Linked DNA regions of Homo sapiens: regions 1, 2 and 4 are each linked to region 3. Evidence: fine-mapped expression QTL. A gene starts in region 3. Each other region holds a variant in brackets. All regions are shown on one strand. Distances are between the middles of the regions. Region 1 overlaps ZBTB20 (zinc finger and BTB domain containing 20). Region 2 overlaps ZBTB20 (zinc finger and BTB domain containing 20). Region 3 holds the start of TIGIT (T cell immunoreceptor with Ig and ITIM domains). Region 4 has its middle 21 kb from the start of TIGIT.

Region 1 (2,689 bases), 35 kb before region 3:
CTAGTTGTCCCCACTGTATTCTCAAACATTCATTTTAATACTGGATCTTTACACTTTCTTTTTTCAATACGCTTAGAATTATTTTAACTAGTCTTCAACCTTTCCCTGGAGGCAGCTTGGCAATATAGTGTTCATTTTCCTGGGAGTTGTTTTTTTTTTTTTTTTTTTTTTTTTTTTCCAAAAAAAGTAAAACCAGAGTTTCAGGAACTCTTTATCCACAGAGGCTAATAGAAATAGAATTTGGAAATATCTATCTGAGACATTTTTAAATCTGAGGAATCCGTAAAATGGTGGCTCTTGGGTATCCAGCCCTCAGGATCTCCATTTACCTGTTAAAGTGAGGATTTGGTGCCTTTCTTCTTTAGTTGGGCCATCAAGAAAACTTCAGAAATCAGGCATTCTGTCTTCCTATACAATAAATATTTTCAGATCATATTTTCAGATAAGAGTCTTCAGCTTCCCTCAGCTATTCAACCCAATGCATGGAAAGCCTCAGTTGAATAAACTTTTCCACCATCCCAGGTGCCTGAAACTAGTGTCCTTCTTCACTTCTACATTCAGGACAAAATGAAGTCAGGTTTTTAAAACCTCAGTATAAAAGACCCCCTCACACTGGTCCAATATGAAGACTTCTCAGCGTGAACACTGGGGAATTCCTTCCTTTCATCTTTCCTAATAGATTGTTGTTTTCTAATCCCATCCCATTCTGCTGTACCTCTCCAGCAAGTCCCTTTTCACCTTAGCCAAGCTCCCTGCAATGCTCTTCAGTTGTGAAGCCTTGTATTCACTAAGGAACTACGTACTCTTAGTCTGCTTTGAAAGGGCTAATGTCTAGTGTAATGGCAAAATTACCAATCTGTTCTCCAAAGTGTTCCAGCAGATATATTTCTACTAGACAAACATAATTGTGAATTGACTGTTAGTGAGGCTGTTTCTTCTCTAATGATCACATAATATCCAAATTATATCAACTTCATTATTTCCCTCTTTCCTTTTCCTAACCCTTTCCCTTTATTTCTTGTTTCTCTTGAAGACTACTTCAAATTACCTATTTGTCTTCATTACTGCCCCCAAAACTCTAATAATTGTGACCCCTAACTGTTCATTTCTCTTCCTTTCTCCACCCCATTCTGAACATCCTTCTTTAAGTTTTATTTAATGAAAGAACACTAAAGTGAGTGAGTTCATAAACTTGAGACTCGTAGGCAGAGTGAAGCATGTCTTCATTTTAGCTTCAGAGTTTAAAAGTTATCAATATTCTTTTGAGAGTGGGAGGACCTGAGTCACAGTTTTAAATGTCAACTGTACTAGCTGAGGTCATTAATTCCCCTTACCTTCACGTTTGGCCAAAAATGAAGAGAAAAATATTTTCT[G/T]TTTTTTTTTTAAATACCACAGTGTTCAGGTTCTTCATATGAGTAAATCACTTTTGACGGAGAAAAAAAGAATCATTAATGTTGACTGTTTCCACTAGTCAAATTACTTGTTTATCAGACTTTAGATTATAGGAATCTAAAGAAAAGAGTAACATTTCAAAATAATTTTGATAACTGTTCAAGCCTTAGTGAGCTCTTCTCAAACAAGAAAAGCCACATCCACTTGAACACATTGTAGGAAAAATTAGGAAGAGTTTTTTTATTTATTGCCTTTTTGAAAAAAAAATCATTGATTTGTTTAGAACTTTGAGCAGTAACTTACTAATGGATGAAAAGATCCATAAAGTTTTGAAAGTGTCTGTTTTTGCAACCAGAGATTGCCTAAACATAAACTTAATATATACTTAAATAAAATAATAACAGAGCTAAATGGATACCTAAAGAGCCATGCAGTGCACTCCCCAGCACCTAAATACGCCCCATATAATTTGGTTGTCATGCTAGATCTCCCTGCAGTGGATTACAACTGTCTGGTCACCAGAGCATTGCCCAAAAGACTGACTGATACCATTCTGGGTGTATCCTTTTCAGGATGCTTATAATATCACATTCACAACAACTTCGTAACACAGTCTTTCCTGACTTCTGGTCCAATATTCTTGCCATGATACCACATCGCCTCTCAGCTTTAATGAAGACAAGTCCTGTGACATTTAGAGTACTATGTGGTTTTGAGTGCATAGGCGGTATGCTTTCAGTTCTTGCTTTACCCTTTGACAAAAAGAATCAACATTTAATATCAGAAATGTATTTTTATTTGACTTGAGATTTGACCCAGCTTTTATCTTAATCAAACCAGTTTATAACATCAACTCACACCATAGAGAACAATGAAATAAATAGCAGTTTTGAAAGCCTTTATGAGGCATGCATCTAGTAGGAAAACAACATCTCTTAAAGGCAATATTTACATTGCTTAGGACTATGATCTTCACTTGGAATGTTCTCCCAATCAATCCTATATCCTTCTTTTTCTTTGTCCATTCTAACTCCTGGTATTTTTTTTTTCTTAAAGTACTCTTTATCTAAAGTAATCCTCTCCTTAGGCACTGGCTTCCAAAGGAAGAAAGACTCTTTTAAATCCTAAAATGCTGTCATTTAAAGTATAATATGGAGGAGGAGAGGCTCTGGTTCTGATAGATCTTACTTGGTCCTCAATCTGGGATGCCTTCTTGATGCTGTTCTTTCTAGTTCCCCAAGAAGTATTCCAACCCCAAGACCCAGAATTTCTCACCACAACCTCTGTGTTAGTCTCA
Region 2 (2,689 bases), 29 kb before region 3:
AGGGAAAAAGTGATCAATGTAGAAAAGTGAGTGCTCCTAGTGTACCTATTTATGTTATGTTAGGTGGCTGCTGCCTGTAGCCCTTGAGGAATAGCTGATTGCACTATTCAAAAATAAAAGCCCAGCACTGTTAAATTTAGGACCGTGTTTCAAGAAACAGGAAAGCTTTATCTTTTTCTGAACCCATTCCCCTTAGCATTAGAGCCATCTGACATGATGAAAACTATTAAGTAAAAACCACTACTGACCTTTACATTAAATAGCTGTTTTCCTCTTCTAAATAATACCCTTGATTTTAACTAGACTACTTCCTTTTATTTTCTGCCTATTGGCTTAATGTTTTACAGAAAATACATAGGTGCATGCTAGTTTCTCTACTTTGAGCTGAAACAAACAGGAGCAACAAAAGAGATGACTCACATAAGTGTGAGATAGACTGAATTTCCCACCTTCGTAGCACTGGTAACCTTTGTAAGAGCTGTTTAGAGTTGAGCTTTGGGTTATAATAGGGCTTTTTTTTGCACTAAATATGACTGCACTGCATTGCACTACTGAAATGTACTTACTTGTGCTGGGAGAGAGTGTGTTACGTATGGGAAAGAAAAAGGCAAATTATGGAAGTAGGAGCATCACTAAAATGCAGAGTTATTTTCATCATGCTTGATCTTAGCAGGGTTGGCGAGAATCTGTGGAATCTCTGTCAACTCTTGATCAGGCCTAGGAACCACCATGCTGATAGGATCTGTTTTCTTACTGTAAAGAAGCTGAGTTAGTACAGCAATTAAGAACATTTAAGAAAAAGTTTACCCAATCTTGTTTCTGACTGAGCTCTCAGTAAGAGTTTTAACAGTGAAGAAGCCAATTGATATGATGTAGAAGTCTTTGCCTTGGCCTCCTCCACAAAGCCCCTTGCTTGTGCACATTTTAGTGTGGCAGAGGGCAGTAGGATGTGCTCCTTTCAAAAACACATAGCCTTGTCCATATTGGAATTACTTTTCAGCCTGATTATGCTTCTCCATCCCTGGGTGAAACCTAGATCAGGCTAACCAAAGAGGAAGGCTATGCATGTGGTAAAGTCCTTTAAGATGACAGATAGGGAACAGTGCAATAAACACTGAAAACCAGTGAAGTGAAAGGTTTATTTTGAAACAAGCTAGGCCAACTTGGACATTGGAGGATGGATTAGAACATACTAGCTGCTCCATCATAGACTATCCTTACTAAGCAGAAGACCTTAATAGTGCCTAAAAGTTTAGTTTTGAAATTGGTTTTTTCCTAACTTTTCTTTGTTAAATTTATTTTTATTATCTTTTTTAATCTTAGAAGTAATCAGAGTTTGACAGCTCTTTAGTAACTGTTAATAAAAGAATCTTTCATCACAGGATAAGCAATAGATTGTGTGGGAAATAATAACACAAGAGTAAAGATGCTGAAGGACTCTTCTGGAACTCAAAGTGACAGTTTTGAAGGTTCTGGCACAGTAGGAAAGGATCACAACCCATATAAATGGCTAATGTTGAATTTCTCTGAACACTGTCACATATGGGGCATCAATTTGGAAAA[T/C]TCTCAATTGAGGCCCCTTCCCTAAGATTACAACATTGATAACCTGTCTTTTTCTCTCTCTTCTTTACTATCCGTCCAAGTCTACTATTCCAAGTTTAAATATTGTTCAGAAAGTTGTCAGCCTTGTTAGTCAGAAAAACTCCATTTAGAGCCATCCAAACTAGCATAAGAAATTCCTTAAGCACTCAAAGCATTATCTCTGTTTTAAGTAAGAAACTAAATCCAGAGCTTTTAACAGGTACTTAGAAATAAGTATTGGGTAATCACTAAGAGGACATTGACTGCACCAAACCAAAGCTATAGAAAGAAATGATTGACTTTTTAAAATATATTCACATTAACTGTCCTAGGATACTTCTCTTGAGGCTTTGGAAAACTTCTTCCTTGAAATTTGCATATCCACTCCAGTTCTGTCACCAAAGATTTTAATCTTCAGATCGCAATTTCCTCTCTCCCAGAAAAAAGTACTACAACAGGCTCAAGGGATATGCTTTGGTGGTCAAGGGATTACACTATGGTTTTCCTTCTGTTCACAATGGTATTTACAGGAGACCTTGTCATCAGAGGACGTACTGAACTATCTTTATGACTTTGGATTTGATCAGAGGTTTAAAAAATAGAAAAAAATAAACAACACTACTTGACACTGTAAATGATCTTTAATAGAGTCATGACCTGGAGACTGATGGAGAGAAAGAAACTTCCATGGAAGAGAGTGAGCTAAATCATTTAGAACCAAACAAAGGTCACTGGTGAAACATAGGGCAGCATGTACACAGTGCAGATCAGGGTTCTGTATGGCCAGAGCCAACAGCAGTGACCGGTGGGAGAGTCAGACAACTGGCCAATGAATTCAAGTGTTGAAAAAGCCACAGTCTGGATTTTGTTGTGATTTCTGGAGTGGTTGAAACGCCCATGCCCATGGCAAGGAAAATGCTTGGAGGCTGATCTGTTGTGATAGTGCCTTTCTTGTCGTAGTGAGTACTAGATTAATAATTTATTCAGTTACGCTTTTCTGTACCATTGCCTCCAGTCTTCTGAGGAGGTTTGAAGGGACAGTATCCACTTAGGATGAAGGGACAGGATATTGCTCTGGAATGCTGTGATTTGATGATATTTGCACTAG
Region 3 (2,681 bases):
CCCACAGGGAGGCTTGTCAAGGCTGCACTCCCTCCCCGCCTCCTAGAAGACCTCAGCCCATCTCAACCTCCCTTTTCCTTTCACATTCACTGCCTGTATTGTATAATTAGCACCTTACTAAATGCCTGGCTTATGACTACACAACTTAGCACGTTGCCCCCTCGCATATTCTGCTATGTAGCTTCATGGCCAGCTTGTTATTTTCGTAGGCCTATTTTGTCTACCCACTTAGAATATAAGCCCTTGTCAGCTGATACCACCTCTTCTGTTTTTATTTTGTTTTGTTTTTATGTTTCTTCCTGCGGCCTAGTTCTATGCTGGATGCATTATCCTTTGAAATAAAACCTTGCTGTTTGGTTGATTGTCATTTGCAGTGCCTGAAAAAACCTTCAGGAAAGCCAAGAAATCCAATAGCAAAGGAAGCTTAGCAGGAAACCCTGCTTCTCCCAGGCATAACCACCCTCTCAGCACTTAACCTCTCCCCAGCAACCCTGGGCACATCTCCATCCTCAGATAGTTCAGAAGGCAACATAAAAACTAATTTATACCACAGTTTTTAAATATTTGTGTTCCCCTCCCTCAGAAATATTTGACTCTGATTTTTAATATAGAAGAAATAAATTTAACAAAAAATCAGTCTCTAGTGGTAGAACCTCTGGAATCTGTGAAAAAGACATTTTCAATTCACAGAGAACTTATAATGTTTTCCTGGAAAGTTCCTGAAAGGCAACAGAAAAGAAGCTGGAGCAGGAATGAGCTTCTAAAAGCAAACTGGCAATGCCTCCTGCCCAGCCCTTCTTCTTCTCCTGCTCCTTCTTGTGCTGGCCAGTCAGGCTCCTCCAACCCCGGAAGTCTGCAAAGTCCTTCATCTGCCACCAAAAACAGAACCCCACCTCATTCTCAGAGATTGTCCTTTCTTAAATAAGAGTACACAGGACTCTAAAAGTTGCAATTTCTTTCTCTCAAGCAGCTGTGGCATGCTCTTGGAGTCTTCCCTACACAAGCACCCAAGTCTCCAACCAAGCTTAGCCTTGTTTTTCCTCCCTGCTGCTCTGCTGGGTTTCAGGCCTTACCTGAGGCGAGGGGAGCCTGCCTCAGCCCCTGGGCCCAGATCAGGAGGAGACACCAGCGCATGCTTCTGCCCAGAGGGCCTACAGGAAGCAGATGTGGCCTCTTCTGCCACTGAAAGTAGCCGACTGCAGATAGGACGGTAAAACTGAGCCTCTGAGAAAAGACGGTCTCGGAAAAACCAAGTTTGGCAAAAACCATATTAAAAACACATAAAGTTGTCAACAAATACACAAACTGCATAGGGTGAGCCACAAGAAAGGCCATGAAGGAAACATTTAAAAATAAATGAAAATTGTGGTTAGAGGTACACTCGTCTTTGGATTATAGTCAATCTATTGTTTTTAAGTTCTGTCTTAATGTTTTTTCTAAAAATCAGCCTTTATTCAAAGAGCTCAAGGGCATCTGTGTAGTGCCCAAGATTCTGAAGAATCTGCTACTGATGAGGAACTGTTGGCTGAGCTCCTCTGGCATCCTCCTGATGAAGAATGTGCAATGATAAGAGAAGCTTATCATTGTAGGGACTTACAGGCCAGGGACTGCACTTGAAATCTAATGAACAGGTGAACAAGAAGTGTTTACTTGGGGGATGATACATGGATGGGACAAAGGTCTTGGACAAACACAGCAACTTTCCCTTGAAGGAGATCTTCTACTCGAATCTTATTTCTTTTGTCTTGTTTATCTGGACTGAGACTTTATTGAATTCTGGCTTGATTTCTCTGGTGCAGTAGGATCAGAGGAGATTAGAGGAGAGAGCTTTCCTGTGCACAATGACCTCATGAGAGCTGGAAATGCAAAGAAGGGTGAGCCCCTGGGAGCTGACCCAGGAGAGGGATTGGTTGACATTTGCCTGGAGCTCCCAGCCCATCACCAGGTCCTACTATGGACCCATCCTTCTTTCCTCCCTCCCTCCCTTCATTCATTTGAAAGTCCCTGGGTGCCTACAAAGCACCAACCTCAACACCAGGCTCTGAGGATATGAGAGTAAATAATCACAGCCCCTACCCTCAAATAGTTTACAAAGCTTGTTCCTTGGTGAACTCAGTCAGGAGAGGGGGTAGAAGATCCACATTCACCTGCCTCGCAGGCTCTCAACACAGTTGCCTTGGGGATGCTCCATGTTGTACATCCTGAAAATCTGCATCTGCACCCAGAAGCATCTGAAGCCTGGTGCCCCACCCCCTCCATTCCAGCCATGCACCTCTAGCATTTCACACCATCCAGGCTCCTACCCTCCTTCTCCCTTGCAAGGTCTTCTATCTCAGGCCAGTTTTCTCCCCTCTCTGGGTTCTGCCTATCCCCAACTCTATGACTTGTATACCCCTTATACCCCACCTCCAGACCCTTAGACAATATACGCCTTACCAGCTTCTCTCTGCCTACCCAAAGCAACCTGTCCTTCAAGGCTCACATCAAGAGATGCCTTGCCTTTCAATAGCTACAAAGCCTTCAGCTGAAGGAGAAATAATACCTAATGTGTGTCCAAGGGAAGGTGCCAAGGTTGAACTGGAGGGATGTTTCCCAAACTCACTAAGGCCGGGGAGCCAGGAGTGGCAGGGCCAAGAGCAGCTAGTGGGACTAGAGCACAGAAAGTGGTGGACACTAGGATT
Region 4 (2,689 bases), 21 kb after region 3:
AGCACAGAGAGAGAGAGATTTCATTTGTCCAGGAGAAAGTAAGGGAAAAGAACAAGAGTCTCTGCCTGATAATCCAGATAATTCTTCTGGATCTTATCCAAGACCACCAAGGCAGTACCTCTGAGTCTGCAAGAGCCACAGCATTACTGGGCTTGGGGTGCCTCCTAATGCAGATACAGCTGCAGTGACCAAAATGTGGATCACAATACCCAAGTCCCTTTGAATACCTGGAAAGCCTTCCCAAGAAAGAAAGATGCAAACAAACCTAGACTGCAAAGACTACAATAAATATCTGACTTTCAATGCCCAGGCACTACTGAACATCCACAAGCATCAAGACCATCCAGGAAAATGACCTCACCAAATGAACTAAATAAGACACCAGTGACCAATTATGGAGAGGCAGAGATATGTCACAGAGAACTTAAAATAGCTGTTTTGAGGAAACTCAATGGAATTCAAGATAACACAGGGAAAGAATGCAGAATCCTATCAGATAAATTTAACAAAGAGATTGAAATAATTAAAAAGAATCAAACAGCAATTCCTAAGTTGAAAAATGCAATTGACATACTGAAGAATGCATCAGTCTCTTATGAACAGAATGAATCAAGCAGAAGAAAGAATTAGTGAGCTTGAAGACAGGCTACTTGAAAATACACAGAGGAGATGAAAGAAAAAAGAATAAAAAAGGATGAAGCATGCCTACAAGATCTAGAGAATAGCCTCAGAAGGGCAAATCTAAGAGTTATTGGCCTTAAAGAGTAGGTAGAGAGAGAGATAGGGATAGAAAGTTTATTCAAAGGGATAATAACAGAGAACTTCCCAAACCTAGAGAAAGATATCAATATTAAAGTACAAAAAGGTCCTAGAACACCAAGCAGATTTAACTCAAATGATATGGTTTGGCTGTGTCCCCACCCAAATCTCATCTTGAATTCCCACGTGTTGTAAGAGGAAACCAGTAAGAGGTAATTGAATCATGGGCATTGTCTTTCTTGTGCTGTTCTCATGATAGTGAATAGGTCTCACGAGATCTGATTTTTGTTTCGTTTTGTTTTGGTTTGGTTTGGTTTGGGTTTTTTTTGAGATGGAGTCTTGCTCTGTCATCCAGGCTCGAGTGCAGTGGCACGATCTTGGCTCACTGCGAACTCCACCTCCCAGGTTCACACCATTCTCCTGCCTCACCTCCTGAGTAGCTGGGACTACAGGTGCCTGCCACCATGCCTGGCTAATTTTTTGTATTTTTTAGTTGAGATGGGGTTTCACCGTGTTACCCAGGATGGTCTCGATCTCCTGACCTCGTAATCTGCCCATCCCAAGCAAAAGCTAAAAAA[T/C]TGTGTTAACACTAGACCTGTTCTACAAGAAATGCTAAAGAGAGTTCTTCAATCTGAAAGAAAAGGATGTTAATGAGGAATAAGAAATCATCTGAAGATACAAAACTCACTGCTAATAGTAAATACACAGAAAAATACATAATATTATTACACTGTAATTGTGGTACATAAATTACTCATATCTTGAGTAGTAAAATGAAAAGTCAATCAAAAATAATAACTACAACTTTTTAAGACATAGTACAATAAGATATAAATAGAAACAATAAAAAATTAAAAAGTGATAGGATGAAGTTAAAGTGTAGAGGTTTTATTAGTTTTTTCTTGCTTGTTTGTTTATGCAATGTCATAAATAAACATAAACAAAGTGTTATCATCAGTTTAAAATAATAGGTTAGAGCAGTAAAAGTGAAAGCTCTCAGAAAAAAAATGGCAGATAGGAGGCAGGACTAACTTGCAGCTCCCACTCAGATGGACAGAACAGCATGTGAAAACACACTGTGAACTTTAGCTCCAAGAACCACTGCAGGAACATACCAGGAAAACCAAAAGAATTCATAGACCCTTTGAAAGAAGTGGCTTTCCACTGCAAACTCCATGAGACAGCCAAAAATCTGTCAGTTCCAAAAGTGTGAAGGGGGAAATCCTGCCTCTGAACACACATCCTCACTGGGGAACCTGAAAATCCAGATCATAGGAGAAGGATTTAACCTTACCTAGAGCTTAAACAAATTTAGAGAGCCAAGCGAAATATAAAAGTAGAAGTAGCAGCAGGAAGAGCCCTGTAGGCACTCCCAGTCCTCAGGGAAGCCATTTCTGATTTTATCTCATAGGGGTCCTTGGGGAGGGCAGCCAGTGGAATTGGGGAAGGATCACAGGGAAAAGAAGGCTTCCAAAGGAACTTTGTAATAATTTTGACCGAGCATGAATTTTCCTGGGCAAAAAAGTTGGAGCAAGAGGGTGAACAAGAAGTACAGATACAAGCACAGAAGCTGCAGCAGGCAGGGAAGGGCAAGACCTGAAAGCCCTGCTTGCTTTCTCAGTGGGGAGGCTTGTAGACTGAGGTAGGACCTCAACCCTATGCACCAGAAGCCTGGATATAAATTCAGCTCTGTTGGCTGTTGGGAGAGCTGGCAGGAGTCAGACTGACCTTGCTGGCTGCATGGGAGCTGGGTGAGGCCAGTTATATTAGTCTGTTTTCACACTGCTGATAAAGATATAACCAACACTGGGAAGAAAAAGAGGTTTAATTGGACTTACAGTTCCACATGGCTGGGGAGGCCTCAGCATCATGGTGGGAGGCAAAAGGCACTTCTTACATGGCGGCAGCAAGAGTAAAAAATGAAGAAGAT

Evidence for each region.
Region 1: its variant is fine-mapped to the expression of TIGIT in whole blood (TOPMed, PIP 0.90).
Region 2: its variant is fine-mapped to the expression of TIGIT in whole blood (TOPMed, PIP 0.92).
Region 4: its variant is fine-mapped to the expression of TIGIT in whole blood (TOPMed, PIP 0.98).

What each region holds. Positions count from the first base shown.
Region 1 is chr3:114,327,198-114,329,886 of GRCh38, reverse strand. It overlaps ZBTB20 (zinc finger and BTB domain containing 20), which reads left to right. Exons shown (of 12, transcript NM_001348800.3): 12 at 1-2,689. Among named protein-coding and RNA genes, the nearest start is that of MIR568, 12 kb to the right of the region's middle. The variant G/T (reference allele first, on the strand shown) is at 1,374.
Region 2 is chr3:114,321,788-114,324,476 of GRCh38, reverse strand. ZBTB20 (zinc finger and BTB domain containing 20) reads left to right here. Exons shown (of 12, transcript NM_001348800.3): 12 at 1-2,689. Among named protein-coding and RNA genes, the nearest start is that of MIR568, 6.6 kb to the right of the region's middle. The variant T/C (reference allele first, on the strand shown) is at 1,564.
Region 3 is chr3:114,292,515-114,295,195 of GRCh38, reverse strand. It overlaps TIGIT (T cell immunoreceptor with Ig and ITIM domains), which reads right to left and starts at 1,168. Exons shown (of 4, transcript NM_173799.4): 1 at 1,074-1,168. The coding sequence starts at 1,134.
Region 4 is chr3:114,271,691-114,274,379 of GRCh38, reverse strand. No RefSeq gene overlaps it. Among named protein-coding and RNA genes, the nearest start is that of TIGIT, 21 kb to the left of the region's middle. The variant T/C (reference allele first, on the strand shown) is at 1,338.